Regions from separate parts of the Homo sapiens genome. Here region 1 is linked to region 2. Evidence: fine-mapped expression QTL. A gene starts in region 2. The other region holds a variant in brackets. All regions are shown on one strand. Distances are between the middles of the regions. Region 1 overlaps TLR6 (toll like receptor 6). Region 2 holds the start of TLR6 (toll like receptor 6).

Region 1 (16,069 bases), 34 kb after region 2:
GGGTGTGGAGATTCAGGGTTGTTGGGCCCCAGAACAGGATGTGTATGGTGAGGGCTGGGCTCTTAAAAGAGCCTTATGCTGAAGCTGTTTGGGTCTCAGGGTATGGGGTATGTGGGACCCAATGTGAAGTCCCATTGTGGAACAATGTGATTGCATATATTCCAGACAGCCCCAGGGCATGTGAAGGCCAAGGAGCTAGCTCATGGCTAGGATTACAGGAGTCCATAGTGGAAACATTGACCTCTGAAGATCTCTCAGTTAAACTTTCCCTGGAATGGGAAGTTCCTCCTGGTTCTGAGCTAGTCCCAGCTGGGCTGGCTGCTTCACTTCCCTCTTCTCCCATGCCTCAGAGGTGCACTGTCACTTCTCCGCTGAATTCCAGTGTTCTCTCTTAGATGCTCATTCAATGTGTGATTATCTGCTCACTGTTTTGGTCCTTCTTTGCAGAGGGGGTGAGGGCTAGGTGCCTCTATTCAGCCATTTTAATGCTTCTCCGGCTCATTTTTTAATTGTTCAATAGTATTTTATTGTGTGAATGTACCAGTTTGTTAATATTTTTATCTATTGAGGGATATCTTGTTGCTTCCAATGTTTGACAGTTATGAATAAAGCTTCTATAAACATCCACATGGAGGCTTTTATGTGGACATAAATTTTCAGTTCTTTTGGTTAAATACCCAGGAATGTGATTTGCTGGATTGTGTGATAAGACTATGCTTAGTTTTATAAGAAACTGCATTCCATAGTGGCTGCACCATTTTGCATTCCCACAAACAGTGAAAGAGAGTTCTTGTTGCTCCACATCCTCACCAACATTTGATGTTGTTTTTGGATTTTACCCATTCTCATAAGTGTAATGTAATTTCATTGCTGTATTAATCTGCAAAACCATGATGAAATATGATGTCAAATAGCTATGTATATGTGTATTTGCTCTTTACATATCTTCTTTGGTGAGGTGTCTGTTTAGATTTTTGTGCCCATTTAAAAACTAGGTTGTTTGTTTTCTTATTGTGGAGCTTAAGAGTTCTTTGCATAGTTTGGATACAAGTCCCTATCATATATGGGTTTTGCAAATATCTTCTCTGAGTCTGTGGTTTGTCTTTTTCACTCTCTTGCAGTGTCTTTTGCAAAGCAAAAATTTTAATTTTAATGAAGTCCAACTTAACAGTGTTTTCTTTCTTGGATTATGTTTTTGATGCGTATCTCAAAAGTCATCACCAAATCCAAAGTCACCTAGATTTTCTCCTATGTTATCTTCTGGAAATTTTATAGTTTTGCATTATACATTTAGGTCTATGGTTAATTTTGAGCTGATTTTTGTGAAAACTGTAAGGTCTGCGTCTAAATTCTTTCTCTTCTTCTTCTTTTTTTTTTTTTGCATGTGGAGGTCTAATTGTTCCAGCACCATTTGTTGAAAAGACTATCCATTCTCCACTGAGTTGCCTTTGCTCGTTTGTCAAACAGCAGTTGATTATTTTTTTGTGGGTCTATTTCTAAGCTCTGTATTCTGGTCATTTGACCTATTTGTCTATTCTTTCACCAAAACCACACTGCCTTGATTGCTGTAGCTTTGTAGCAAGTCTCAATGTTAGGTGGTGTCAGTTATCTGGCTTTGTTCTTTTAATTTCTTTTTTTTTTTTTTCCTGTGAATGAACAATACTTTCTGTTTCTTTGCATGGCTAATTTTTTTAAACAAATAAATTAGAGATTCCTTTAATGCCAAGTTACACAATCAAAAAGATAACAATCTCTTTCCATTTGCTTTTTGCAAGGTTTGTGTTATTTCAGGGCAAAACGTAGAGCAAGTCCACTGGCAAATCTGGGGGCTAGTGATTATTTTGTTTTGATTTTTATTTTTTTAAATCAGACATTTTAAACACTACAATGAGGTAACTCTAGAAATCAAATTCTGTCCCCCTTTCCCAGAGGTGTTTTATTTATTTATTTATTTATTTTTTGACAGGGTCTCATTCTGTCACCCAGGCTGGAGTGCAGTGGTGTAATCACAGCTCATTGGAGCCTCGACTTCCTCGGCCCCAAACAATCCTCCCACTCAGCCTCCCAAGTAGCTGGGACTATAGGCACACGCCACCATGCCCAGCTAAGTTTTGTATTTTTTGTAGAGATGGAGTTTCACTATGTTGCGCAGGCTGGCTTTGAACTCCTGGACTCAAGCAATCCACCTGCCTTGCCCTCCCCAAGTTCTGGGACTATAGGCTTAAGCCACTGTGCCGGGCCTCCCTTTCCCAGGGTGTATTGTTGCTTCTTGTGGCTTATAGTTGCTTGTTTAATGACTTTTCTAAATAATTTTTATAAAGATTATTCTTTGTCATGTGTGGCTATTACATTTTCTGTCCAGTTAGCTTAGTGGTCAGCCAGTAACTTGAGATTTCTTTAAACATCTGGAGCAAAAACAAAAACCAAATAAACTAGCAAAAGCAAAAACAAAAACACCCCTGATCTTTGCAGGTTGGCTGTGTTGGATCACTTTCTCAATGCTTAGCCAGTCTATTCACAGCTCTGCTTTAGCCTTCACTTTCTGCATGCATGGAAGCTAAAGATGAGCCAGAGGTGAAGTTTAGGATTTTCTCAGGTCTCCTCTGAACATGCGTCCAGCCTTGGGCACGTGAGTGGACTTCTGGACTCCCTGGTATATACAGAGATTTCCTCAGCCTTTTTTCTCCCACATATCTTTCTCCATATATCTTTGCATATTTCCCAGACTTTTTGATGTGTCTGCTGCTTGCCCCCTCTGTTAGCCCTTGCTCAGGTGGCTGCAGCTAGTATGTTTGCCTTTAATTGTTTACAGCAAACACCAGCCAGAAGGCTGTTCCAGCCCTGAGAAAGTTCTAAGGTGTACAAAACAAAGGCAAGCCCCTGAGTGTGAATCCCTCAGGCAGCAACCAGACAGGTCAAAACACACAACCACAATTCTTTGATAACAAGGCCTATATTGCCCCTTCTGGCATGAGCAAGCTATATAACTGGTTATAAAAAGTATTACATTAAATTATGGGGACAGAAATGACTCTACTAGTGAATGAAGAAATCATTTAGATTTTATGGTTAGTAAGTGGAGGTTTGAGAGTAACCATCCGATCTTTATTAATCTTAGTGTATATTATATTTCTAGAATTTGGACTCATATCAAGATGCTCTGAAGAAGAACAACCCTTTAGGATAGCCACTGCAACATCATGACCAAAGACAAAGAACCTATTGTTAAAAGCTTCCATTTTGTTTGCCTTATGATCATAATAGTTGGAACCAGAATCCAGTTCTCCGACGGAAATGAATTTGCAGTAGACAAGTCAAAAAGAGGTCTTATTCATGTTCCAAAAGACCTACCGCTGAAAACCAAAGTCTTAGATATGTCTCAGAACTACATCGCTGAGCTTCAGGTCTCTGACATGAGCTTTCTATCAGAGTTGACAGTTTTGAGACTTTCCCATAACAGAATCCAGCTACTTGATTTAAGTGTTTTCAAGTTCAACCAGGATTTAGAATATTTGGATTTATCTCATAATCAGTTGCAAAAGATATCCTGCCATCCTATTGTGAGTTTCAGGCATTTAGATCTCTCATTCAATGATTTCAAGGCCCTGCCCATCTGTAAGGAATTTGGCAACTTATCACAACTGAATTTCTTGGGATTGAGTGCTATGAAGCTGCAAAAATTAGATTTGCTGCCAATTGCTCACTTGCATCTAAGTTATATCCTTCTGGATTTAAGAAATTATTATATAAAAGAAAATGAGACAGAAAGTCTACAAATTCTGAATGCAAAAACCCTTCACCTTGTTTTTCACCCAACTAGTTTATTCGCTATCCAAGTGAACATATCAGTTAATACTTTAGGGTGCTTACAACTGACTAATATTAAATTGAATGATGACAACTGTCAAGTTTTCATTAAATTTTTATCAGAACTCACCAGAGGTTCAACCTTACTGAATTTTACCCTCAACCACATAGAAACGACTTGGAAATGCCTGGTCAGAGTCTTTCAATTTCTTTGGCCCAAACCTGTGGAATATCTCAATATTTACAATTTAACAATAATTGAAAGCATTCGTGAAGAAGATTTTACTTATTCTAAAACGACATTGAAAGCATTGACAATAGAACATATCACGAACCAAGTTTTTCTGTTTTCACAGACAGCTTTGTACACCGTGTTTTCTGAGATGAACATTATGATGTTAACCATTTCAGATACACCTTTTATACACATGCTGTGTCCTCATGCACCAAGCACATTCAAGTTTTTGAACTTTACCCAGAACGTTTTCACAGATAGTATTTTTGAAAAATGTTCCACGTTAGTTAAATTGGAGACACTTATCTTACAAAAGAATGGATTAAAAGACCTTTTCAAAGTAGGTCTCATGACGAAGGATATGCCTTCTTTGGAAATACTGGATGTTAGCTGGAATTCTTTGGAATCTGGTAGACATAAAGAAAACTGCACTTGGGTTGAGAGTATAGTGGTGTTAAATTTGTCTTCAAATATGCTTACTGACTCTGTTTTCAGATGTTTACCTCCCAGGATCAAGGTACTTGATCTTCACAGCAATAAAATAAAGAGCGTTCCTAAACAAGTCGTAAAACTGGAAGCTTTGCAAGAACTCAATGTTGCTTTCAATTCTTTAACTGACCTTCCTGGATGTGGCAGCTTTAGCAGCCTTTCTGTATTGATCATTGATCACAATTCAGTTTCCCACCCATCGGCTGATTTCTTCCAGAGCTGCCAGAAGATGAGGTCAATAAAAGCAGGGGACAATCCATTCCAATGTACCTGTGAGCTAAGAGAATTTGTCAAAAATATAGACCAAGTATCAAGTGAAGTGTTAGAGGGCTGGCCTGATTCTTATAAGTGTGACTACCCAGAAAGTTATAGAGGAAGCCCACTAAAGGACTTTCACATGTCTGAATTATCCTGCAACATAACTCTGCTGATCGTCACCATCGGTGCCACCATGCTGGTGTTGGCTGTGACTGTGACCTCCCTCTGCATCTACTTGGATCTGCCCTGGTATCTCAGGATGGTGTGCCAGTGGACCCAGACTCGGCGCAGGGCCAGGAACATACCCTTAGAAGAACTCCAAAGAAACCTCCAGTTTCATGCTTTTATTTCATATAGTGAACATGATTCTGCCTGGGTGAAAAGTGAATTGGTACCTTACCTAGAAAAAGAAGATATACAGATTTGTCTTCATGAGAGAAACTTTGTCCCTGGCAAGAGCATTGTGGAAAATATCATCAACTGCATTGAGAAGAGTTACAAGTCCATCTTTGTTTTGTCTCCCAACTTTGTCCAGAGTGAGTGGTGCCATTACGAACTCTATTTTGCCCATCACAATCTCTTTCATGAAGGATCTAATAACTTAATCCTCATCTTACTGGAACCCATTCCACAGAACAGCATTCCCAACAAGTACCACAAGCTGAAGGCTCTCATGACGCAGCGGACTTATTTGCAGTGGCCCAAGGAGAAAAGCAAACGTGGGCTCTTTTGGGCTAACATTAGAGCCGCTTTTAATATGAAATTAACACTAGTCACTGAAAACAATGATGTGAAATCTTAAAAAAATTTAGGAAATTCAACTTAAGAAACCATTATTTACTTGGATGATGGTGAATAGTACAGTCGTAAGTAACTGTCTGGAGGTGCCTCCATTATCCTCATGCCTTCAGGAAAGACTTAACAAAAACAATGTTTCATCTGGGGAACTGAGCTAGGCGGTGAGGTTAGCCTGCCAGTTAGAGACAGCCCAGTCTCTTCTGGTTTAATCATTATGTTTCAAATTGAAACAGTCTCTTTTGAGTAAATGCTCAGTTTTTCAGCTCCTCTCCACTCTGCTTTCCCAAATGGATTCTGTTGTGAGCAAGAGTTTATATGGCTTCATGGCAGCAAGGGAACAGTCAACTTCAGCATCATATGCACCAGTCCTCGGAGTGCCCTGTGAATCATATTGGTCTTTGGGTCAGTGTCATCATTCTCTTCAAGTCTGGGGCTTGGGGAAAAAATTAGATCAGCTACGGCATATAAAAAAGTCTTTTGTTTCACATATGTGTAATAGCTTATTTAATTTTTTATCCTGCTACACAAATATGTAATTAACCAATGAGGACTCATGACTTGATAGTGTATGTATGTAAAGGGATATATGGACTTAATCATAAGCTGTTGAGGTGAAAGACGTGGATCCACCTGCTTTCCAAGAAAACTCGGCCAAATTTATTTGCAGCTGGATATTGAATGGGACTTTTCTGGTTGTCTTAGAATTCTGGCTAAAGGCTCAAAGCTGACGAAAGACAGTAACTGCACCAACATGATACTAGACACAGCCAGTCTGGACTTATCAAAAGAGCAGAAAGAGACCAATGACTCCCAGTCCGTATTATCCATCTCTAGAAGACTAGAGTCAAAAGCGTGATTAAAGAGTCATTAAGCGGAGGTTCTAGGCCATAGGGAGATTGCTTTGAATTTCTTGCAGACAAGTGTGAGGGACTCAGCATGGTAGAAGGTAGCCTGGCATCCCACTCCAAGACTGAAAGCTTGCAGAGTAACAGGAGCACACAGGTTCAGTGCAGCAGATGTGGTGTGGCTTGAGAATTCTTGGAAGAGCTTGATGAGTGTTTGCTGGAGTCCGAGGGTGGGCACTGGGAACACAGAGACTGGTAAATAGTGTTTGGCAAATACAAGTGCTTGATGAATATTTGTTGAATGAATAGATGAGTTCTTCCCCCCTGGGGAATTCAGGAGGTGAAAGGTTGGCTTGAGCACCCAAAATGGCAGGATGAGAGAAGAGAAGCACTGATAGCAACCTGCCCTCCCATTATTGACATGGTAAAAGGATGTGAATTTCTTCACATGGCTTTGACTATGGAAGAGTAGCTGGGCTTGCATTGTCATGACGGGATATCAGCCAACAGGGTAGCCTGTTGTGCAAAGAAACTATAGCAGTAAGAGGACACGGGGTTAGGCAGAAGAGGGGTTTGGGGTGGAGGTTGCTGCAAGAGGTCAGCCAGATAATGTGGCCCTGCATCATGGAACTGTGCAATGTGGGGTACACTCAAGGCCCTCCAATAACTCACAGATGTGCCCTATGAAAAAGCCAGCATTTGGACTCTGCCATAGCAGCTGGCAGGATCATGCTGGCCTGTCTGCCTTATTCAATAGTTAACTACAGGAAGATCTGCTCCTCTTTGTGTAATACCCTCTTCCCTTGCAATGGCATAGGGACATCTAGAATATAGAGAAGACAGAGACAATGGAGGAAGAGTAAAGAAACTGACTATATGCCTTC[G/T]TCATTTCACTGCAAGGAAGGCCAAGCAGATTTTTGAATGAGGTGTGAGATTGCTGTTAAATTGGACTGGCCTGGACATTTTAATCCCTTAAATAGAGGTGCAATGACTAAAGTGAGATTTGTCACTAAAATTTATGGTATCTGCCCAAGATTCAGGAGTGATGATGGGAGGAGATCCAACAGAACTTTGTTGTAAGGCAATGGTTAGAGAAAAATGAAGCCCTCGCTTTCTGGACTTAGTTCATTCAATAAACCAGTTTCGGCCAGGCACGTTGGCTCACATCTATAATCCCAGTACTGTGGGAGGCTGAGGCAGGTGGATCACTTGAGGTCAGGAGTTCGAGACCAGCCTGGCCAACATGGTGAAACCCTGTCTGTACTAAAAATACAAAAATTAGCCGGGTGTGGTGGTGTGCACCTGTAGTCCCAGCTACTCGGGAGGCTGAGGCAGGAAAATCACTTGAACCTGGGAGACAGAGGCTGTAGTGAGCTGAGACAGCGCTACTGTACTCCCCGCTGGGCAACAGAGTGAGACTCCATCTCAAAAAAGTTAAAAGAAAAAAAATCTGGTTTCATAATAGCTGTAACGAAATAAGCCTTAATGATATTTTATTAGCATCATCTTCTGTCTGCATTAGCCCTTCCTTGCTCTTCAGGAGAACAACATTTGTTTTCCTCCCTAGGCTCTATCCCAAACGGCACATTCTTCCACAACCCCTGTTGAACAGATTTTTTAAACTGTTGCCTAATCTAAAAACAATAAAAACAACAAACAACCACAGTAACAACAACGACAAAAAAAACTGCCACAGATTCTAAATAATCAGATCTTTTTAAATGGTATCAATGTTTCCCACAAAATATTGTTGACATTGAAAATATAGAATTTTAGCATTAATTTTGTTAAACCTACATCCCCTCGGCAGAGGGGCCTCCCTGCATCCCAGTGGAAAGTAGGTTCCTCACAGTCCTCTCCGTCACATTCTTCCCATTTCTTTTCTTCACAGAACACATCACTGTCTAAAATTATCTTGTTTGCTTAGTTGCTTACTCATCTTCTTCTTCTCTCCTCTGAAGTCTAAGCTCCAGGAAAAAGGGAGACTTCTCCACCTGTTCCCTGCCTCTCCCCAGTGCCGAGGGGACACTGTGCACCCCATTGTAGATGCGCAGTAAAAACTCGTGGGATGAGCAAATGACTCTGAAACGGTCCCATGCGGGAAATGTCCATGAAGTCCTGGATTTTATCTAAAAAGCCCAGGCAGGGGGGGGCGGGGGCGGCGGGGCTACAGTTCCACGCTGAGCTGCCTCCTGGCCGCTCGTCCCCGCCGCAGTGCCTGGGCGGCCCGGGCGCCCGACCTTGGCCGTGGACACCTTCGCGGTGGGTGCTGCTCCTCCCCATCTGCCACTGGAAGATGCTGGGGCGACCCGGCTCCAGGTTTAGCAGGACACTGAGAAAAGGGAATGGCTGCCTTTCGGAGGCTGGGTGAGCCCTTCTCTGTGCCTCACCTGCCCGCCCCACAGCGGCCCTGCACCTCGTCCCACGGGGCCCATTGCCCCGGTAGGATGCGCGCTTTTGTTTTGAGGGTCAGGCATCTTCCCTGCCGTCGTTTCTGGGAGGTTGAAAAATTGATCCAGAAAGACCTAAAACAAAAAACAAAGAAAAACAAAAAAGCGAAAAGGAGGCAAAACAAAACAAAAATCCATACAAATAAAGTATCTCCTCCATCCATGTTTGCACTATTCCTTCTCATTCCCCCGTCCAATGCCACAATTTGGTAAGTTTGCCTCAACACGTTTTCAGTTCTTAACACTGTGATAAGAATAAACAATAGATCCCGTAGTAAGATGACCTGTTAAAAGGAATGGGGCATGGCAGAGATGAGTTTGGATGAGGAAAGGTGTCAGTCCGTTTGGGCTGCTCTAACTAAGTTCTGAGATGTGTGTTAGGTAATTTTGACTTTGGTTGAACATCATAGAGTGCACTCACACAGACATAGATGACATAGCTTACTACACACCTAGGCTTATGGTATAGCCTGTTGCTTCTAGGTGATTGTAACACAATGCTTAGTATTTGTGTATCCAAACATATCTAAACATAGCAAGGGTATGGTAAAAATATGGTAAAGAAGATAAAAAATGGTACACCTGTATAGGGCACTGATGTGGGTTGGCTGTGTCCCCACCCAAATCTCATCTTGAATTCCCACGTGTTGTGGGAGGGACCCAGTGGGAGGTGATTGCATCATGGGGGCGGGTCTTTTCCTGTGCTGTTCTCCTGTTAGCGAATGGGTCTCATGAAATCTGATGGTTCTTTAAGGGGGAGTTTCCCTGCACAAGTTCTCTCTCTTCCCTGCTGACATGTAAGATGTGACTTGCTCCTCCTTGCCTTCTGCCATGATTGTGAGGCTTCCCCAGCTCTGTGGAACTGTAGGTCCAATAAACCTCTTTCTTTTGTGAATTGCACAGTCTCAGATACGTCTTTATCAGCAGCATGAAAATGAACGAATACAGGCACTTACCATAAATGGAGCTTGCAGGATTGGAAGTTGCTCTGGGTGAGTCAGTGAGTGAGTGAGGGGTGAGTGAATGTGAAGGCCTAGGACATTACCATATCCTACTGTGGACTTTACCATGTCCCACTGTGGACTTTATAAGTCCCATTGTACATATAGGCCACACAAAAATTATTAAATTTGTTTTCTTTCTTTAGTAAGAAAAATTATTAAAATTGTTTTCTTTCTTTAGTAAGAAGTCAACCTTAGCTTATTGTAATGTTTTTACTTTATCAACTTTTTGCCTTAAATTTTTTTTTGGCTCTTTAGCAATAACACTTAGCTTAAAACACACATTCTACAGCTATATAAAAATATTTTCCTTCTTTACATCTTTATTTTGTTTTTTCTATTTTTAAAATATTTTATTTTTATTTTTCACTTTTTAAACTTTTCTGTTAAAAACTGAGACACACACACAGACACACACACACTAGCCTAGGCCTACTCATAGGGTCATTATCAATATCACTGTCTTCTACTTCTACCTCTTGTTCCATTGGAAGGTCTTTAGGGGCAATAACATGCATGAAGCCATCATCTCCTGTAACAACAATGCCTTCTTCTGGAAAACCTCCTGAAGGACCTGCTTGAGGATTTTTATAGTTAGCTTTTAAAAAAATAAGTAGGAGCACACTCTAAAATAATGATTAAAATTATAGTCTACTAGATACAGAAACCGGTAACATAGTTGCTTATTATCATTATCAAGTATTATGAACTGTACATAATTGTATGTGCTGTGCTTTTATATGACTGTCAGTGTCGTATGTTTGTTTACAGCAGCATCACCACAAACATGTGAGTAATACATTGCACTGCAATGTTACTAGGCCATAGGAATTTTTCATCTCCATTATTATCTTATAGGGCCATGACTGTTGAGTGAAATATTGTTATGCACTGCATGACTGTACCACAAATTGAGTAGCTTATAAACAATGGAAATTTATGGCTTATAGTTCTGGAGGCTGTAATGTCCAGGGTCAGGCTGCTGACAGATTTGGTGCCTGGCGAGGGCCCACTTTCTGGTTCATAGATGGCTTGTCTTTTCACTGTATCCTCACCTGGGGGAGGGCACTAATGCCATTCATGAAGGCTCCACATTCATGACCTAATTGTCTCCCAACATCTCCAACTCTTAATACAGCTCTTTCTCCGTATCCACAGGGGATTGGTTCCAGGAGCCCTGTAGATTCCAAAGTCTGTGAATGCTCAAGTCCCTTATGTAAAATGGCATACTTCCAACCTGAGCATCATAGTGAGACCCCACCTCCTCAAAAAAAATACATGCCTGGCGGCACATGCCTGTAGTCCCAACTACTCAGGAGGCTGAGGTGGGAGGATTGTTTGAGCCCAGGAATTCCAGGCTGCAGTGAGCTATGATCATGCCGTTGCACTATAGCCTGGGCAACAGAGCAAGACACTGACTCTGAAAAAAAAAGTGTACTATTTACATATAACCTATGTACATCCTCTCATATACTTAAATCATCTCTAGATTTCTTACAATACCTAATACAATGTAAATGTTATGTAAATGTTATGTAGTTGTTAAACTGTATGGTCTTTTATTTTTATTATTTTGTATTATTATATTGTTATTATTTATTTATTCATTTATTGAATATTTTCAATCCATGGTTGTTTGAATCTATGGATGTGGAACCCATGGATATGAAGGGCTGATTGTATTATCCCCTTGGGGGTTAGGATTTCACCATAGGAATTTTGAGGGGCACACAAACATCCAGACCATAGCAAAAGAGATAAGAAACCTAGGTTAGTGACCAGGGAGGGCTGCTAGGATGAGCCTTGATGAAAGATCTTTCATCAGGAGGATCCTGGGCATGTGGCTGGGAAGGGTCCTGGGCATGTGGCTGGGAAGACCCTTCAAAGGGGAGGGCACAGTGGGTGCAAAGTTGGAAGTGAAAGAATACCATGAGCGAAGAAAGCATCAAATTGGCAGTGTTGCTGGATGTGTTAGTTTCCTGTGGCTACCAAAACAAATTACCACAAACTGGGTGGCTTAAAACAACAGAAATATATTTCTCCCAGTTCAGGAAGGCAGAAGTCAGAAATCAAGGTTGGCAGGGTTGTTCCTTCCAGAGGCTGTCAGGGAGAAATCATCCCTTTCCTCTCTCCTAGCTTCTGGTAGTTGCTGGCAAACCTTGGCGTCCCTTGGTTTGCAGATGCATCAGCTGCTTCTTAGAATGCCCTGGAGGACATGCCCCAGTAGTTAGCAGCTTTCTATAGAATGTGGTACATAATACTTCTTTGTCTTTAGTTTTGGACCCAAGTCATAAGAAAAGTTCCAGTCAACACCCTATTACGTAATCAGTAGAACCAACAGATGAGAAGAGAAACCAAAATTATTGGTAGGCTATTGACATACATGGCAGATGCGCAATCTAAAAAAATGTATCCCAAATTTGGGTTAAATAATCAATAATCTGTGCCTGTGTCTTCACATGGTGTTCTCCTCCAAGTCTCTGTCTTTTTTTTCCTGTCTCTTACAAGGACACTCTAGTTGGATTTAGGAGCCTCCTTAATCTGATGCCATCACATCTTGGTCCTTAACTTAATTAGATCTACAAAGACTCTTTTTTCAATGAGGTCACATTCTGAGATTTCAGAATAAATCTGAAATAAATGGACATAAATGTTTGGAGGTTGGGTGGAGGACACTATTCAACCCAGTCCTCTGGAGTTGGCATGACCAGCTCTGATGCCCTGGAGACTCAGTTGAGTGTGGCAGCAGAAAAGAAATGTTATCCTGGAAAGAGTGAAGACTCTAAAAGAAGCTGCTTGGAAAGTCAGAGGTACAAAGAAAGGAGTAATAGGCAAAGAGAATAGAGTGGATGGGTGTAAGAGCACAGGAAAGAGACAGTGGATGGAGACCCGGGATATAAACGGTGAGAGTGTGGGAGTTTTAAAGAGAATGAGACCACAAATATGGGGAAAGGAGGAGGTATTTCTGTCTAGGTTTCTGGGGACTGGTTTGATTAGAAAGGAATGAGACTAAACTACAGGGAGTAAAAGACCTGAGGGGATTTCTAAAACCACAGGGACTTTCTGAGAGTTTCAATTACGGTTAGTTTATGAGGAATCTCAACATCATCTAGTCCAAATGTGAAGTAGTGTTTATTTTTCTCAGTCATTCCATCAACTGGATTCTGAAATTCCCCTCTTGTCACTCCTTAGTGATATCTTGAGCAGATTTAATACTTCTGCAGTCCTTTTGAGATACTGATACTCCAATCTAGTTTAAAATTCTAAATCTCCATCTTCATCTAAAACTCATCTTCTTTCTGCATGTCACAGGCTAGGTCTGTAGCTCAACCTTGGCATATATTTTGGAGGTAGGCATGGTTTATCTGAGATACACTCTTCTTGCCCCTCCCTCTCCCAGATCTAGCTCCCTGAAGTGGAGATCAAGGATGAGTGGTAAGAAGGCAGATATCCTTTTCTATAATTGTGTCGATTAAGGTACAGTCTAAGCTGCAGGACTGGGAGACCTCAAATACAGAGGCTTAAATAAGATTGAGGTTTATTTCTTTCTCATATAATAGAAAAAAGTATAGCTAAGAGGTCTAGAATAGGTAAGCTGTCTCTATTCCACAAAATCATTCAAGGGCTCAGGATGACCAGATGTCTCTGTTTCCTATAGCTCTGGTCTTATCCTATGGCCTCCATTCTCCCTTGCATGGAGCCACAGGAGCTGATGAAGCCCTCCTGTGCCTTTTTGTGTGTGTGTGGCCCATGGGATGCTGAGGTGGAGATACACCCCCTTTCCCAGGTACCTGATACCACAGTCTCTAATTGCCAGTTGGCAAGGGTTGGTCCAATGGAAATCTCCAACAGAGTAGACACCAGTCGCTCTACTAATTTACACTCCTGAACCCCCAGGGGGCACGTGTAATGTTCTCTAATACTGCTCAGATGGGCAGGGGGATCAACCTCAGAGGGTGATCCTACACATTGCTGCATCAAAACAAGAATCCTCTTGAGGAAAGAAATGCCTGATCTGCCTGTCCCGTGTCTAAGAGTAATTTTACTGTTATTTCCCCTTCACTTGGCTTGAGAAAGAGATGTCATCTCTTGCATAGGGAGAAGAGCTTGCAGGCTTACATCATTAACACTCATCTCCTGGTGCTGCTGACTCTCTTGTCACCCTCCCCAGCATTCTCAGGTGAATGGGGGAAGGTAGGGTGAGGCGATGCTGTGGACAGTGCTATCTGGTTCTACTGCTTCTTAGAATGCCCCGGGGGACATGCTTCAGTTGCTAGCAGCTTTGTATAGAATGTGGTACATAATACTTCTTTGTCTTCAGTTTTGGACCCAAGTCATAGGACAAGTTCCAGTCAACACCTTATTATGTAATCAGTACAACCAACAGATGAGAAGAGAAACCACATTGTTGATAGGCTATTGAATTATATGGCAGATGAGCAATCTAAAAAAAGTATCCTAAATTTGGGTTAAATAATTAATAAAAAAGACATTTCATCTATAGTAATAGAAAAAAAGGCAAAGAATAGTGGTATGGGTTTATGTCTATTGGTTCAAAAAGTCCACTTTATAGAATATATATTAAAAAAATAATTGTTCAGCCAGGCACAGTGGCTCATGCCTGTATTCCCAGCACTTTGGGAGGTCGAGGTGGGTGGATCACCTGAGGTCGGGAGTTCGAGACCAGCCCGACCAACATGGAGAAAACCTGTCTCTACTAAAAATACAAAATTAGCCGGGCGTGGTGGTGCGTGCCTGTAATCCTAGCTATTCAGGAAGCTGAGGCAGGAGAATCTCTTGAACCTGGGAGGTGGAGGTTGTGGTGAGCCGAGATCATGCCATTGCACTCCAGCTTGGGGAGCAAGAGCGAAACTCCATCTCAAAAAAAATAAATAAATAAAAATAAAAGTAATTGTTCATACACATCCCAAGGAAACATTGCTGCTTATTGCAGAATTGTTTCTAATTGTGAAAATTGGAAGCAATTTAAATGTCCAACAACAGAAGATTGGTAAAATGCATTATAAACTAAAATATTAAAAATTGCATTATAAATAAAAAGGAATATTATCCAGCCAATAATCATGAAATTGTAAATGGATAATTACTGACATGAAAAGATATTTATGATCGATTATAGGTTAAGAAAAGCATATTACAAACAGTATACGTAGTATGATGCTATGTGTGTGTGCATGCACTTGGGCATGTGTAAGTAGATAAATTGTTATAAATTTTCTGAACCACAATTTGCAGTAGGAGCCAAGAATCTAAAGAATGTTAACATATAGAGAAAAATGACTGCATGGTTGCTCTAAAAATGATATTGGTGTGATTCTATTTGGTGAGATTACTGCTTATTCAAATATTTTAAAATTTATTTATATTTCCTGATTTTCCTACAGTAAACATTTATTACTTGGATAATTGAAAATTAAAAAAACTAAAAAAATACATTTGCGAAGAACAGATACACGTATATCTATCTTATCTTGTTATGGAGAAAAACTTTCTAAATCTAAAACCAGGGTAGCCATGGTGTGCTGGAGCTTGCTTGCACAGATTTGTTAAATCTGATTCTAAAGTATTCAGGGCCAGGCACGGTGGCTTACACTTGTAATCCCACCACTTTGGGAGGCGAAGGCGGGTGGATCACTTGAGGTCAAGAGTTTGAGACTAGCCTGACCAACATGGTGAAACCCCATCTCTACTAAAAATACAAAATTAGCCAGGCATGGTGGCACATGCCTGCAATCCCAGCTACTAGGGAGGTTGAGGCAGGAAAATCACTTGAACCTGGGAGGCAAAGGTTGTAGTGAACTGTGATCATGACATTGCACTCCAGCCTGGGCAACAAGAGCGAAACTCCATTTCAAAAAATAAAATTAAATATAAATAAATACATAAATAAAAATAAAATATTCAAGAGCTTTGCCAAAAAATTAGTTGGTAGCTAGCCCTCAGCAATAGCGGGAATACTGACACTGCAGATATCAGCAAATGCTACAAATCAGACTTTTCTTTTGAAACTGCTTTACCAGCACACATCTGAAAGACAGTAATAGCAAAGAAAAGGGGAACTTACTTGTTTATATAAAAATGAATGTGGGGCCTGGTGAGAAGTAATTAGATCATGGGGGAGGAGTTCTCATGAATGGGTTGACATCATTGCCTTAGTGCTGTTCT
Region 2 (16,069 bases):
GGGTTTCACCATGTTGGCCAGGCTGGTCTCGAACTCCTGACCTCAGGTGATCCACCCACCTCGGCCTCCCAAAGTGCTGGGATTACAGGCATGAGCCACCGTGCCTGGCTATATTTCTTATTTAATATTTTTATTAAATATTTTTATATTAATAATTTTTTAAGCTACTGAATATTTATTTTATTTTATTTTTTAGGAGGACAGAGTCTTGATCTGTGGCCTAGGCTGCAGTGCAGTGGCACCATCTCCATCTCCTGGGTTCAAGCGATTCTTCTGCCTCAGCCTCTTGAGTAGCTGGGATTACAGGTGCGTGCCACCACACCCGGCTAATTTTTGTGTTTTCAGTAGAGACAGGGTTTTGCCATGGTGGCAAGGCTGGTCTCGAACTCCTGACCTCAAGTGATCTGCCCACCTCGGCCTCCCAAAGTGTTGGGATTACAGGCGTGAGCCACCACACCCAGCCTGTCATTTTTAAATTCATAGAAAAACCAGAAAGTTATCTTAATGTGAGAGTGGGTGGAAACTGCTTTAAATTGAGATCAATAGCCTTTTTGAATTGAGCGAGACTTTGAACCTTAACTAACACGTGGCTTCTGTAACTCAGTTTTTCCACCTCTAAAATAAAGAGCATTGCTCGGCACAGTCCCTTCCAGTTCTGGCTTTGCGAGTGTTATCAAATTATGTTCCAGTTGCAACAGGTGTGTTTTGGTGTAGCATATACACAGACGTCTGTGCCTGGGACTTCTGCTCCTGCCCAGAGACAGCAAGCACCTTTGCTAACCTGCCTTCCCTTCCCTGCTGTGCCGTAACAGCCCAATCAGATGTTCTCTTTTTAAAGGGCTGAGTTCCTCTTCTCCTTTGACCCAAACCACACCTATCCAATAAAGAAAATAAAGCAAACTATCCTGGCAACAAGTTTGTTTTTTGTTTTGCCCACTGCAAATTTGTCCCTTTTACTCATGTAGCTGCTTCCAGGACTACCAGATTTTATTTCAGATATTTTATTTATTTGCAATGTAAAACATTTTAAGTTCATTTAAAAATTTTCTGGAGTATTTAAAATATATAGAAAAGTAAAGAATAATATGACAAATACTTATTTGTGTAAAAAATATAGGAAATACTATGATGATATCTAGATTTAACAAAATTTTTTGCAGTATTTATTTTAGAATTTTCTTTGCAAAGAAAAAAATGTTACGGATATGTTTGAAACCCTATCCCTTCCATTGTCCACCATCTCTGCAGGTAGCCATTTTCTTGAGGTGGTTGTATATCCCTCCCACCCATATTTCTTTCTTTCTTATTTAGGAATGAGGTCTTACTCTGTCACCTAGGCTGGAGTGCAGTGGTGTGATGACGGCTCAGTGCGGCCTCAGACTCCTGGGCTCCAGCAATCCTCCTGCCTCAGCCTCACAAGGAGCTAGGATCACAGGGTGCCACTGCACCCAGCAAATTTTTAAATTTTTTTGTAGAGTCGTGGTCTTGCTGTGTTGCCCAGGCTGGTCTCAAACTCCTGGCTTTAAGCAATCCTCCCGCCTCAGCCTCCTAAAGTACTGGGACTACAGGTGTGAGCCACCATGCACAGCCCCCCTCACTCATATTTCTAAATGTTTGCTGCATATGTCCTCACCCACAAATGCACGTATAATTGTTTTTCAATGTTTTAGAATATTAAGGACATCCTGTACACTTGTTAACTTGCATTATATTTTTGAGAATCATTCATATTCACACATGTAGCTCTAGCACATTCATTTCAAAGTCTTCATAGGAGGGCATGAATATGCCACAATTTATTTCCCGATTGATCTACTTTATTGTGCTTCATATTTCACTCAATTACATATAATGCTACAATTGCCACCTTTGAATATATTTTTTAGTATCTAGGAAAAAAATGGAATAGCTGGTTCCCCTTTACTAGACATTGCTGAGTCGCCCTTCATTATGGGTCAACCATTTATTCAACATAACCTTTCTGAAAGCATGCACTGTGTACCAAATACGGCTGTAGGTGCTTGGAGTACAAAAGAAGCAAAGCAAACTCCTGGTATTCAAGAACTTACACTCCACAGAAAGGGAGATAGACCCTAACTAGAGGGTCTATATGAGGTGGTGGAGTAAAGCAGGCTATAGAATCTACAGGGTTTAGGGAATGATGGGTAGGACCAACTGTGGTCAAGGAAGTCCTTACTGATAAAGTGGCATTGCAATGTAGACTTTAAGGAAGTAGGGAAATGAACAGTGGCCATATCTGTAGACAGTCTCAGGCAGTTTGGGAGCATGGATGATGCATTCACAGAAAGGTAAGGTGGCCAGTGTGGCTGGAGCAGAGGGAGGATGGGGAAGAGTAGAAGAAAATGAGGCCATAGAGGTAGTGGAGGCTGAGAGATGGGCAGAGGGATTTTGGTTTATACTTTGAGTGAGACTGGCACCCTTATGGCTTTTGAGTATGATTCTAGTATCTGACTCTAGTCATATTGGAATTGGGTGAAGGTGGGAGGGGAGAGAAGGATGGAGGCTGGCATACCTGTTAGGATGCCATTGCAGTTATCCAGGTGAAAGATGATGATGCTTTTGACCACCATGGGAGTAGTGGGGGACATGAGAGGTGTTTGCTTATGGACATATTTCAAAGAAAAATCCAACAAAATTTGCCTATAGATTGAATGTAGAGTTTGAGCAAAAGAGAAATTAATCATTAATCACTCCAAGGATTTTAGTCTGCACTACTGGAAGAGTAGAAATATCATTTATTGATATGAGGAAGGATGCAAGAGGGGGCAGGTTTGGAGTTAGAGGTAGTAAAGATTCAGGCATTTGGCTTGCAACAGTAATGGTTTAGCAAGCATTTAGCAGGCTATTGAATGTGAGTCTGAAGTTCAGGGAAGTCTGGGACTTCATCCTGGTTTGAAGGACCAGGATGAGAGTGCATGGAGTTAGAGATGTGGTCCAAGACTAAGTCTTGGGTATTCCATGCCAGAGATATAAAGAGGACCCAGAAGGAGACTGGGAAGGAATGCCAATGAGTTAGCAGGAAATTCAGGGAAGGGAGAGTGGGGAGTGGGATATGGGGTCTAGGAAGTCAGGCAAGAAAACATTTCAGGATCTTTCAACTGTGTTAAACGCTGCTAATAGTTCAAAGAAGCTAAAAATTGAGAATTGACCGTGGATTTGGCAATGTGGTGATCATTGGTGACCTTGAAAAGAGCTATTTCTTCTGACCGGTGGGGAAGGAAACCTGACTGAAGTACATTTAAGAGAATGAGAGGAGAACAATTAGAGATAGTCAGTAAAAGCTCTTGCAAGGAGTTCTGGTATATAGAGGAGCAAGGAGGGGAAGGTTGTGGATTCAAAGGGAGTTTTTTTTTTTTTTTTTTTTTTTTAGATGGGAGAAATTATTGCTTTAAAATGTGATTGGGGGCCGGGTGTAGTGGTTCATGCCCGTAATCCTAGCACTTTGGGAGGCCAAGACGGGCGGATCATGAGGTCAGGAGATCGAGACCATCCTGGTTAACAGGGTGAAACCCTGTCTCTACTAAAAATACAAAAAATTAACTGGGCGTGGTGGCACGTGCCTGTAGTCCCAGCTACTCGGGAGGCTGAGGCAGGAGAATTGCTTGAACCTGGGAGGCGGAGGTTGCAGTGAGCTGAGATTGCACCACTGCACTCCAGCCTGGGTGACAGAGCAAAACTCCATCTCAAAAAAAAAAAAAAAAAAAAAAATGGTGATTGGGGCCAGGTGTGGTGGCACACGCCTGTAATCCCAGCACTTTGGGAGGCTGAGGCGGGCAGATCACTTGAGGCCAGGAATTCAAAACCAGCCTGGCCAACATGGCAAAACCCCGTCTGTACTAAAAATACAAAAATTAGCGGAGAGTGATGGCACACACCTGTAATCCAGGCTACTCAGAAGGCTGAGGCAAGAAAATCCCTTGAACCTGGGAGGTGAAGGTTGCAGTGAGCCAAAGATCATGCCACTGCACTCCAGCCAGGGTGATGGGAGTGAAACCTTATCTAAAATAAAAAAAAATGTGATTGGAATAATACATCAGAGCAGAAAAATGTTGATACAGTAGAGAGAAGATCATTGCAAGAGTGACTTCCTTGAGTAGATGAGCAGGAAGGGGACCCAGTGCTCAGTGGGAAGGGGCTGGCTCTTGGCACAGAGAGTTCATTCCGAAGGACAGCAAGAGTTCAGGTAGAACTCATGCAGGGGAGGCTTATAGAATTTCAGGGGAAGATGTGGAAATGCTCCTCTGGTAGCATCTATTTTCATTGTGAAAATGAAGCATCATCGCGTGAGAATGTTGGTTTTCAACAAGAATGTTTTAGCAACTATTTAGTAGGCTGTTGAATGTGAGAGTCTGGAGTTCAGGGAAGTCTGGCCTGGAGCTGGTAATTGAGGAGACATCAGCAAGCAGATAGTTTTGAAGCCACGGACCCAGATGACAATGCATGGATTTAGAAAAGAAGTGGTCCAAATCTGAGCCTTGGGTAATCCATGCCAGAGAGATAAAGAGGACCTAGACACGAGAAGGAGATTTTGGAAGTGAAAGAGACAAGAGGAGGTGTGAAAGAGGAGAACAGGAGAGTGAAGGGGCTAGGGAAGGGTAGTAAGGAGGGTAGGAGGATGGCTGCTCTCTTGAGGCTGGGATCTAGTCATACATTTCAAGTAAGCCAGTCAGCATGGGTGTGTATTTTCTCCAACTATATTCAGCCACTCAAGCTCAGTGTAGTCCAGTGGAGAGCTGGATTTAAACTGGGTTGAGGAAAGAGGAGTAAGTAGCTGCAGAAGAATAATGAAGAGGATGGAGCATGATCTTTCAGTCCAGTGCAGTGGGGCTGGGGAATCGTTGGCACTGGAGGAAGAGTTGGAGGTGAGAGAAGGAAAGTGGGATTCAGGCAACTGAGATTATGGAGGGGGTGCAGCCATTGCTAATAATGATATCTAGGATATAATAAGGGAATGCATGACTGAGGTAGGGTGCAGGACAAGATTATTAGAAGAGAGAATGTCCAAGAACTCAGAGGCCAGGTGAATGGAAGAGTCTCTATGTAGCTATGGAAATCACTAGAATTATGAAAGGGGTGGTATCGGATTGAAATAGTGAGTACTGCTAGAATACTTGATGAAGTGATGGGGCTCACTAGATGACTGCAATGAGAAGGGGTGGGTTTGGAGGAAGGAAAGTGATCTGGAAGTAGCAGTGAGAGTCAAGAACACCTGCACCACCTCCCAGGCTCTGGTGTGTGAAGGGTGCACCCAAGAAGATATAGACCACTAGAGGGCGCTGTGCTCAGGCCAGCGTGTAGGTCTCAGTCCCCTGATTTTCATGGGGTTACAATGAAATGGACTCACCTGAAGAGCTTTCAAAATAAAACGTATGCCCGGCCCCTCCCAGACCACTTACATCAGCATCTCTGGACATGTATGTGAGCTCCTGTTTCTTCATGTTCTGGCCACCATTTGTATTACTAGATGTTTTAAATTTTGTCCACCTTAGGGGTGTACAATAGTGTCTCCTGGTTGTGTTAATTTGTATTTTCCCATGTTCTAATGAGGATGCATACCTTTCCATGTGTTTGAGCTATTTCTGTTTCCTTTTCTGTTATCCATCTGTTGATCTCCTTTGCTCATTTCCCCGCATTGGGGTTGTTAGTCATTTTAAAATTGATTTGTAGGAAATCTTTATATATTTTGTATATTAACACTTTTGTGATTATACAAGTTGCAGATACCTTCTCCCAGTCTGCGGCTTGTCTTTTTTTTTTTTTTTTAATTCAGCAGAGAAGTTTAGGTTTACTATCAATACTTAATATATAAATTAGCATTTTTTTTTTTGAGACAGAGTCTCGCTCTGTTGCCCAGGCTTGAGTGCAGTGGCACGATCTCAGCTCACAGCAACCTCCGCCTCCTGGGTTCAAGTGATTCTCGTGCCTCAGGCTCCTGAGTAGCTGGGACTACAGGCGCCAGCCACCACATCCAGCTAATTTTTGTATTTTTAGTAGAGACAGGGTTTCACCATGTTGCCCAGGCTGGTTTTGAACTCCTGACCTCAGGTGATCTGCCTGCCTCAGCCTCCCAAAGTGCTGAGATTACAAGTGTGAGCCACTGCGCCCAGCCAAAATTATCAATCTTATCTCTGTCGTATGTGTATCTTATGATATTGATAATTGTCACAAAACTTACTTTAAAGCTGTTGGTAGACACTAATATTTATTTATTTATTTATTTATTATCTGGAGAAAGACAACATTTTTTAACAAGTAAAAGTCATCAAAATAATGTTTTGCCTGTGTCTGTATTGGGACAGTGTATTGGGTGGCCTCAGATTATGTTTATAATACTTAACCCAGTGTGACACTATTTTTTAAAAATTAAGACATATATACATATCTATATATAGTGAAGAATTCAAATAGGACAAAAAGCATAAAATGGTGAAGAGGCCGGGCGGGGTGGCTCAATCCTGTAATTCCAGCACTTTGGGAGGCTGAGGTGGGCGGATTGTTTGAGCCCAGGAATTCCAGACCAGCCTGAGCGACATGGCAAAACCCTGTCTCTGCAAAAAAATATAAAAATTAGCCATGCATGGTGGTGGATGCCTGTGGTCTCAGATCCTTGGGAGGCTGAGGTGGGAGAATCGCCTGAGTGGGGAAAGTCAAGGCTGCAGTGAGCTGTGATCACGCCACTGCACTCCACCCTGGGCAACAGAGCGAGACCCTGTCTCAAAAAAAAAAAAAAAAAGGCCAATAATCTATTTCTCTTAGTTCTTCTGCTCAAAGGTGAACATTTCTTATGTATCTTTTGAGAAAAAAAGATTCATATGCCTCTATCAACATATGTATGTAGACCCTTGTATTAAGTTTCCTGTGGCTACCATGACAAATCACCACAGACTGTGTGGCTTAAAACAACAAAAATTCATTCTCTCAGAGTTCTGGAGGCTAGAAGTTCAAAATCAAGCTGTTCATAGGGTGATGCTCTCTCCAGCCTCTGGTGGCTCCAGACATCCCTTGCATTGTGACTGCAATACCCCAGTCTCTGCCTCTGTTTGCAAATGCTCTGCTTCTCTGTATCTCTCTTCTCTGTGTGTCTTATGAGGACACAGGGTGTCTTCTAAGGCAGCATAGTATGATGCTTAAGTGCATAGGCACTGGGGCCAAACTGCCTGGGTTCGAATCCCACCCCCACCACTGACCAGCAGTGCAAGCTGGAACGATTACCCAGCTGCGCTAAGTGGAGATGACGTGACAGTACTTATCTCACAGCACCTTAATGAGTTAATACTTGGAAAGTAGTCACAGCAATGCCTGGCAAGAAGATAACCTGTGTAAATGGCTAGATTTTATACAATTGATGTCATACTCTTCTTACAGTTCTGCACCTTAATTTTCTTTCTTTCTTTTCTTTCTTTCTTTCTCTCTTTCTTTCTTTCTTTCTTTCTTTCTTTCTTTCTTTCTTTCTTTCTTTCTTTCTTCCTCTCTCTCTCTCTCTCCCTCTCTCTCTCTCTCTCTCTCCCTCTCTCTCTCTCTCCCTCTCTCTCTCTCTCTCCCTCTCTCTCTCTCTCTTTCTTTCTTTCTTTTTTCTTTTGAGCCAGAGTCTCACTCTGTTGCCCAGGCTGAAGTGCAGTGGCACAATCTCAGCTCTCTGCTACCTCTGCCTCCTGGGTTCCAATGATTCTCCTGCTTCAGCCTCCCGAGTAGCTGGGAGTACAGTTGCCTGCCACCATACCCAGCTAATGTTTGTATTTTTAGTAGAGACAGGGTTTCGCCATGTTAGCCAAGCCGGTCTCGAACTCCTGACCTCTGGTGATCTACCCACCTCGGCCTCCCGAAGTGCTGGGATTACAGGCATGAGACATCGTGCCCAGCCTGCACCTTGATTTTCTTCACTTCATAGTATATCCTGAAATCTTTACCCCTCAGCATACAAAAAAACTATATGATTTGCACCAAACTCCTTACTATTATGACTTCTCTTCTGTGTCAGTCACTATTCCAGCCACTTTAAATTCATTATCTTTCCTAAAAGTACTCCCATTTTGTGGATGAATAAATGGAGGTTAAGGGACTTGTCCCAAGCCTCACAGTAAGTGGCCAAGTGGAGGTTCGGCCCAGTACTGTCTGTTTCTTTGTTTGCTTAACTGTCATTGCCATCTTCGCTATTACTTGATTTTTGTGTTTTTGTCATCCCCTTACAGACGTTTCTGAGTTATGACAGCCTCGACAAGAATAGTCTCCTTGTTTCTGAACATTGGTGTTGTGATGCAATCTCCTAATGAGACATGTCAATGTGCCCAGATCTGCAGTGATAGTTGTCTGTTTTCTTAAGACTTTAGTCCACGGTTACTTGAAATTCCCTCAGAGCCACAGCCAGCCCTTTCCCTTGGCTTGTTTCACAAATCTGGTTTTCCAGGGTCACAGATACCTGCTGCTTTCTGGCTGTCTCCTTTTGCCAGTGGAGCAGAGATCCATCCACTCCTTACTGAGCCTCCCCAGGCCTGAGGAGACTTCCTGTTATGTTTGATGAGTAAGGATGAATCACAAGAAGCCAGCCTTTCTCTTCCTCCTGAAAGCAGAAGTGATTCTTACGGAGATGTCCAACTTTGTCATTAGCCAAATTGTAAGGTCTTAACTTGTTGTTGTTTTTTTTTTAATAAAGATGAGATTGTGCCAGACAGTGAGATAAATTATAGAATGATTGTTTCACTCATGCCTTCTGTCCTTTGCAGAACTCAGTTAAGCAAGAAGTCTGGGGAAAAGGGTTTACTGTCCACCAGAAGTCTCTGTTTAACCAGAGACTTCTGGTAATCAGCCTTTGTTGATGTCATTCTGAAATTCTTCTAAATGGTCTTTAGAAAATTGATTTTTAAATTAGTCTTGCAGGATTTCAGTGTTATTTATTATTCCTAAATTAAAATCTAAACCATTTAATAACACCAAATGTTGATCAGAATGTGGGTATGATTGCTCGTACATATGGCTAAATATGTAGTCATAAATATGTATCAACCAGTAAACTTTCCTTAGAAGTTGATTTTTAAAAAAAAACCCAAATTGTGGAACTATACTTATTTTATTTTAAACTATCTCATCCAGCTAAAATAATGCTCAAAATTGCTTGATAAGGGAAACTGCAATTATTCTTGAAATGTTAAATATGGTGATAATAGAAAACAGGCTGTTTAAAATAACTTTCCACTCAGGTGACAAATGTAATAACCAGGCTGCAAACTCTTACAGAGAAATATTACCTTAGAAAAATATTTTTCTTCACATTGAATTGTTTGTAAGTTGCTTCCTCACACGAATTAGAAAATTGGATTACTGGTTTTGTCTGTAGCCCAGAAAAAACTGCTAACTCACCTCCGGACCTTTGAAAGGTAAAAATATACGTAGGAGTAATTCCAGTGTGGGCCAACAGATGGCACCAATCTGTTTCTAAGGTACCGCTTTACTCAACTTTAAGAACTTGTGTTTGTCAAGCATTTTCAATTGTATTTCCGTTCATTTACAAGTTATTTTCTCTTCTTCTGAAAAAGAGATCTTGGTAAGTAGAAAGACTTCTGTGGCTTTTTCACATTATGGCACAGGTGCTTCAAGTAAGCAAGTTTGCTAACCATTCATTATATAGGAAATAGGTAATGTTTCCTTGAAATTTTTGCAAAATGATTTGAAGTGGTTTTTTTTGTAGATGTTGCAAATGTCCTTTGAATTTCACGAGCAGGATGAAGAGCAGCGTCTTTACAGCTGTCTTGAAAAGATAGAAAACAACTAGCGCTTGTGGTGATAATTAAGGAACAAAACTAATGTTATTTATTTCTTCTGATTTGGCCCAGCGAATTTTCTCTTTTCGTCTTTCTCTAGTTTATTGTTTTCAGTAACATTTAACAGTAATTTTTATATACCACTGATATGGCACCTATTTATTATATGTTTTTACAGCAGACGTGTGTTTGATCTCCCTTGTCGTTTGTCACTGTAACAGTTTGCTGGTCTGTGTCTGTCCCTAATTCATAAGCTTTTTGAAAGCAGGAATTATGTCAGTCCTATTCATATTTATATCCCTGGTGCCTAGTGCGTAGCATGGCACTGGCAGAAAAATAGACTCTGAATAAACATTTATTAAATGGAGGAAGTGGCCGGGACCAAGCCCCTTCACAAGCTTGAATCTGGCACAGTGTAGCAATTGCCTTCCTCCAGGTCCTTCCACCTTCAGTTTGACAAATGAAACAATGTTTTTCTTGCCTATTTGTTAACTTGATTATGTGATCTTTCCTCCACTTATTTCACTTAATTTTTTTTCTGCTCTCTTCTTCCTTGTAGTTTTAATTTTCATAGGTCTTGTCTACCCTTTTTTTCTGAAATGTAGCTTATTTCATCTATTTCCTCACCCTTTTTATTTGATGCATTTAAAAAATCAAGAGCATTTACCTGTTTATTTTTACTTTCTTTAAAAAACTGTGAACTCTCTAATCTTCCACTCTCATCTTCCCATTTTTCCCTCCTTTTTTCCCAATAAATAGAAAAGTTACTATCTTGTTCATTTAGTGTATTCCCTAGGAACTGCCTCAGGGTATGAACGCCTCTGGAGGAATATTGCGTTTTTGTGGCAGGATACCATAAGGACAGCTGACCAGCTTTTCCACCTGGTGACTGATTTTCAGTCCCATGAACCCAGACACCGTGGGTCTGGTTGCCGGGGACCTGTAGGGTAGGTCCTCATCTGTGAATGCCAGTTATCTACTATTATCTGAAAGTTCTCCATCTTTATATTTTAATATTCCAAATAAAACAAGCACGTTTCTTTAAATATAAAATATTTTCACACAGCTATAAAGACAACTCTTAAATTGCCTTACGATAACTTTTTTGGATTATAAAGGACATTCAAAATGAGACATTTTAGGGATATCTGAAAGTATAAGAAAGAAAATTAAATTCATCTATAATTCAGAGATTCAGAGAACCACTATTATTAGTATTTGGTATATTTCATCACATTGTTTGTCCTCTAGCTTTTACGTATATGTCAGGTTTTAATCATATTTTGCAAAATTAGAGTCTTACTACATATATAATTTTTTTTTTTTTTTTTTGAGACGGAGTCTTGCTCTGTCGCCCAGGCTGGAGTGCAGCGGCACGATCTCGGCTCACTGCAAGCTCCGCCTCCCGGGTTCACGCCATTCTCCTGCCTCAGCCTCCCGAGTAGCTGGGACTACAGGCGCCCGCCACCACGCCCGGCTAATTTTTTTGTATTTTTTTTTAGTAGAGACGGGGTTTCACCGTTAGCCAGGATGGTCTCGATCTCCTGACCTCGTGATCCACCCGCCTTGGCCTCCCAAAGTGCTGGGATGAGAGGCGTGAGCCACTGCGCCCGGCCATAATTTTCTATTACTGTATTCATTTAACATTATCATTTTTTCAAAGTACAGTATTTGAGGCTATTATTTAATTATACATAACTGATTTAATCATTTTCTACACTAGACATTCTGATTTTTTCAATATTTCATTATGTCATGAGTATCCTTATAGTCATATCTTCTGTGTGTTATTTTTGACTATTTCTTTAGAAAATTCCTTGTAGTGGAATTGCTAAAATAAAGGAAGGTATATTTTTAAGAAATTTATGTAAATTACCAAATTACCCTTTAGAAAGCTTGTACTAATTTTTCATTCCTGCCTAAGTAGTAAATGAGGGTTCTTATTTTAGTTTCCACCTACCAACCTGGATATTATATTTTTTAATTTTCCCTATTTGATAGGTGAAAAAAAAATCTTGCCTTTTAAAAAATCTTTTAAGAAACAAGAGTCCTCCTTTGACCCCCTTCCTCTTTTTATGCTTAAATATCTTATAGTAAAAATAACAGGCATTCTGGAAACCTATTTCTAAAAGCTTTATTCTCTATCTCTAAAAAAATTACATTTTCCTAAAATAGCCAAATAACATTATAAAAAATTACAATTTATTTCTTAATAGCATCTAATGGCTGGTCCATCATAGAATCTGCCCCTCCTTCTGTTACTGAATATGTTTTATAGCAAGTCTGTCTTAACTGAGATCTAATCCAAGATCATGAGTTTCATCTAGATGTTATGTGCTTTTTTGATTTAACGTGCTGTTTTATTTTTTGTGAGATTGCACATTATTCATATTATTGGCAATTGATTTTTGGCAAATTATTCAGTAAATAGTACAGTAAACTTAATTTTGAATGTTAAAAGTTTGAAAAATATAGATAAAAACTAAGAGGAAAATAAAGTTCCATTATAATCTTACTGTGCAAAGATAATTACTGTTCATATCTTGGTATGTATCTTATTAATTTTTCTACTTGCATAGGTACATATTTACTTTGGTACTTTTTAAATAAACTGCTTTTTGTCACATATAGTGAAAATATTTTCATGCAATTCGATTTTTATTATTTTTAAAGGCTACATAGTACTATTTAATTATACAGAGATACTAAAATTTATTTGATAACCTGCTATTTTTGGATAATTGAGGGATTTGTTTTCAAAATAGAATTTATTTTTGCCAGGAGCAGTGGCTTGTACCTGTAACCCCAGCTCCGTGGGAGGCTGAGGTGAGAGGATGGCATGAGCCCAGGACCTTAAGCTATGATTGTGCCACTGCACTCCAGCCTGGGCAGTGGGACAAAACCCTGTCTCTTAAAAAGAAAGTGTTTAAGAAAATAGTAATGATAATAATTTATTTTGTGACGGCCACTTTATTGTAGTCTTTTATTGGTGCTAACATTTTTTCAATGACTTCTCTTTGGCTTTCCACATTGACAGTCTTATAATCTAAAAATAATAATGATTTTCTTTCTTCATTTCAGTATTTCTTCCTGTCATTTTTTTTCTTTATTACAGTGGTTAAAACTTCCGGAAAGAACAATGTGTGCATTCTTTTTTTTTTATTATTATACTTTAAGTTCTAGGGTACATGTGCACAACATGCAGGTTTGTTATATATGTATACATGTGCCATGTTGGTGTGCTGCACCCATTAACTCGTCATTTACATTACGTATATCTCCTAATGCTTTCCCTCCCCCCTCCCCCCACCCCACGACAGGCCCCAGTGTGTTATGTTCCCTTTCCTGTGTCCAAGAGTTCTCATTGTTCATTTCCCACCTATGAGTGAGAACATGCGGTGTTTGGTTTTTTGTCCTTGCGATAGTTTACGAGAATGATGGTTTCCAGCTTCATCCATGTCCCTACAAAGGACATGAACTCATCCTTTTTTATGGCTGCATAGTATTCCATGGTGTATATGTGCCACATTTTCTTAATCCAGTCTATCATTGATGGACATTTGGGTTGGTTCCAAGTCTTTGCTATTGTGAATAGTGCCACAATAAACATGTGTGTGCATGTATCTTTATAGCAGCATGATTTATAATCCTTTGGGTATATACCCAGTAATGGGATAGCTGGGTCAAATCGTATTTCTAGTTCTAGATCCCTGAGGAATCACCACACTGTCTTCCACAATGGTTGAACTAGTTTACAGTCCCACCAACAGTGTAAAAGTGTTCCTATTTCTCCACGTCCTCTCCAGCACCTGTTGTTTCCTGACTTTTTAATGATCGCCATTCTAACTGGTGTGAGACGGTATCTCATTGTGGTTTTGATTTGCATTTCTCTGATGGCCAGTGATGATGAGCATTTTTTCATGTGTCTTTTGGCTGCATAAATGTCTTCTTTTGAGAAGTGTCTGTTCATATCCTTCGCCCACTTTTTGATGGGGTTGTTTATTTTTTTCTTGTAAATTTGTTTGAGTTCATTGTAGATTCTGGATATTAGCCCTTTGTTGGATGAGTAGATTGCAAAAATTTTCTCCCATTCTGTAGGTTGCCTATTCATTCTGATGGTAGTTTCTTTTGCTGTGCAGAAGCTCTTTAGTTTAATTAGATCCCATTTGTCAATTTTGTCTTTTGTTGCCATTGCTTTTGGTGTTTTAGACTTGAAGTCCTTGCCCATGCCTATGTCCTGAATGGTATTGCCTAGGTTTTCTTCTAGAGTTTTTATGGTTTTAAGTCTAACATTTAAGTCTTTAATCCATCTTGAATTAATGTTTGTATAAGGTGTAAGGAAGGGATCCAGTTTCAGCTTTCTCCATATGGCTAGCCAGTTTTCCCAGCACCATTTATTAAATAGGGAATCCTTTCCCTATTTCTTGTTTTTGTCAGGCTTGTCAAAGATCAGATGGTTGTAGATGTGTGGTATTACTTCTGAGAGCTCTGTTCTGTTCCATTGATCTATATCTCTGTTTTGGTACCAGTACCATGCTGTTTTGGTTACTGTAGCCTTGTAGTATAGTTTGAAATTAGGTAGCATGATGCCTCCAGCTTTGTTCTTTTGGCTTAGGATTGACTTGGCAATATGGGCTCTTTTTTGACCCCATATGAACTTTAAAGTAGTTTTTTCCAGTTCTGTGAAGAAAGTCATTGGTAGCTTGATGGGGATGGCATTGAATCTATAAATTACTTTGGGCAGTATGGCCATTTTCATGATATTGATTCTTCCTATCCATGAGCATGGAATGTTTGTTTGTGTCCTCTTTTATTTCATTGAGCAGTGGTTTGTAGTTCTCCTTGAAGAGGTCCTTCACATCCCTTGTAAGTTGGATTCCTAGGTATTTTATTCTCTTTGAAGCAATTGTGAATGGGAGTCCACTCATGATTTGGCTCTCTGTTTGTCTGTTATTGATGTATAAGAATGCTTGTGATTTTTGTACATTGATTTTGTATCCTGAGACTTTGCTGAAGTTGCTTATCAGCTTAAGGAGATTTTGGGCTGAGACGATGGGGTTTTCTAAATATACTATCATGTCATCTGCAAAGAGGGACAATTTGACTTCCTCTTTTCCTAATTGAATACCCTTTATTTCTTTCTTTTGCCTGATTGCCCTGGCCAGAACTTCCAACACTATGTTGAATATGAATAGGAGTGGTGAGAGGGGGCATCTCTGTCATGTGCCAGTTTTCAAAGGGAATGCTTCCAGTTTTTGCCCATTCAGTATGCTATTGGCTGTGGGTTTGTCATAAATAGCTCTTATTATTTTGAGATACGTCCCATCAATACCTAATTTATTGAGAATTTTTAGCATGAAGAGCTGTTGAATTTTGTCAAAGGCCTTTTCTGCATCTATTGAGATAATCATGTGGTTTTTGTCTTTGGTTCTGTTTATATGCTGGATTACATTTATTGATTTGCGTATGTTGAAACAGCCTTGCATCCCAGGGATGAAGCCCACTTGATCATGGTGGATAAGCTTTTTGATGTGCTGCTGGATTCAGTTTGCCAGTATTTTATTGAGGATTTTTGTATTAATGTTCATCAGGGATATTGGTCTAAAATTCTCTTTTTTTGTTGTGTCTCTGCCAGGCTTTGGTATCAGGATGATGCTGGCCTCATAAAATGAGTTAAGGAGGATTCCCTCTTTTTCTATTGATTGGAATAGTTTCAGAAGGAATGGTACCAGCTCCTAGTTGTACCTCTGGTAGAATTCAGCTGTGAATCCGTCTGGTCCTGGACTTTTTTTGGTTGGTAGGCTATTAATTATTGCCTCAATTTCAGAGCCTGTTATTGGCCTATTCAGGGATTCAACTTCTTCCTGGTTTAGTCTTGGGAGAGTGTAGGTGTCGAGGAATTTATTCACTTCTTCTAGATTTTCTAGTTTATTTGCATAGAGGTGTTTATAGTATTATCTGATGGTAGTTTGTATTTCTGTGGGATCAGTGGTGATATCCCCTTTATCATTTTTTATTGCGTTGATTTGATATTTCTCTCTTTTCTTCTTTATTAGTCTTGCTAGAGGTCTATCAATTTTGTTGATCTTTTCAAAAACCCACCTCCTGGATTCATTGATTTTTTGAAGGGTGTTTTGTGTCTCTATCTCCTTCAGTTCTGCTCTGATCTTAGTTATTTCTTGCCTTCTGCTAGCTTTTCAATATGTTTGCTCTTGCTTCTCTAGTTCTTTTAATTGTGATGTTAGGGTGTCAATTTTAGATCTTTCCTGCTTTCTCTTGTGGGCATTTAGTGC

The links.
Region 1: its variant is fine-mapped to the expression of TLR6 in whole blood (TOPMed, PIP 0.96).

The regions. Positions count from the first base shown.
Region 1 is chr4:38,816,605-38,832,673 of GRCh38, reverse strand. It overlaps TLR6 (toll like receptor 6), which reads left to right. Exons shown (of 2, transcript NM_006068.5): 2 at 3,137-9,777. The coding sequence starts at 3,201. The coding sequence ends at 5,591. Among named protein-coding and RNA genes, the nearest start is that of TLR1, 20 kb to the right of the region's middle. RefSeq lists enhancers at 1,038-1,207, 8,768-8,937, 12,942-13,061, 14,107-14,216, 14,237-14,286. The variant G/T (reference allele first, on the strand shown) is at 7,317.
Region 2 is chr4:38,850,251-38,866,319 of GRCh38, reverse strand. It overlaps TLR6 (toll like receptor 6), which reads left to right and starts at 9,503. Exons shown (of 2, transcript NM_006068.5): 1 at 9,503-9,559. RefSeq lists an enhancer at 7,855-9,054.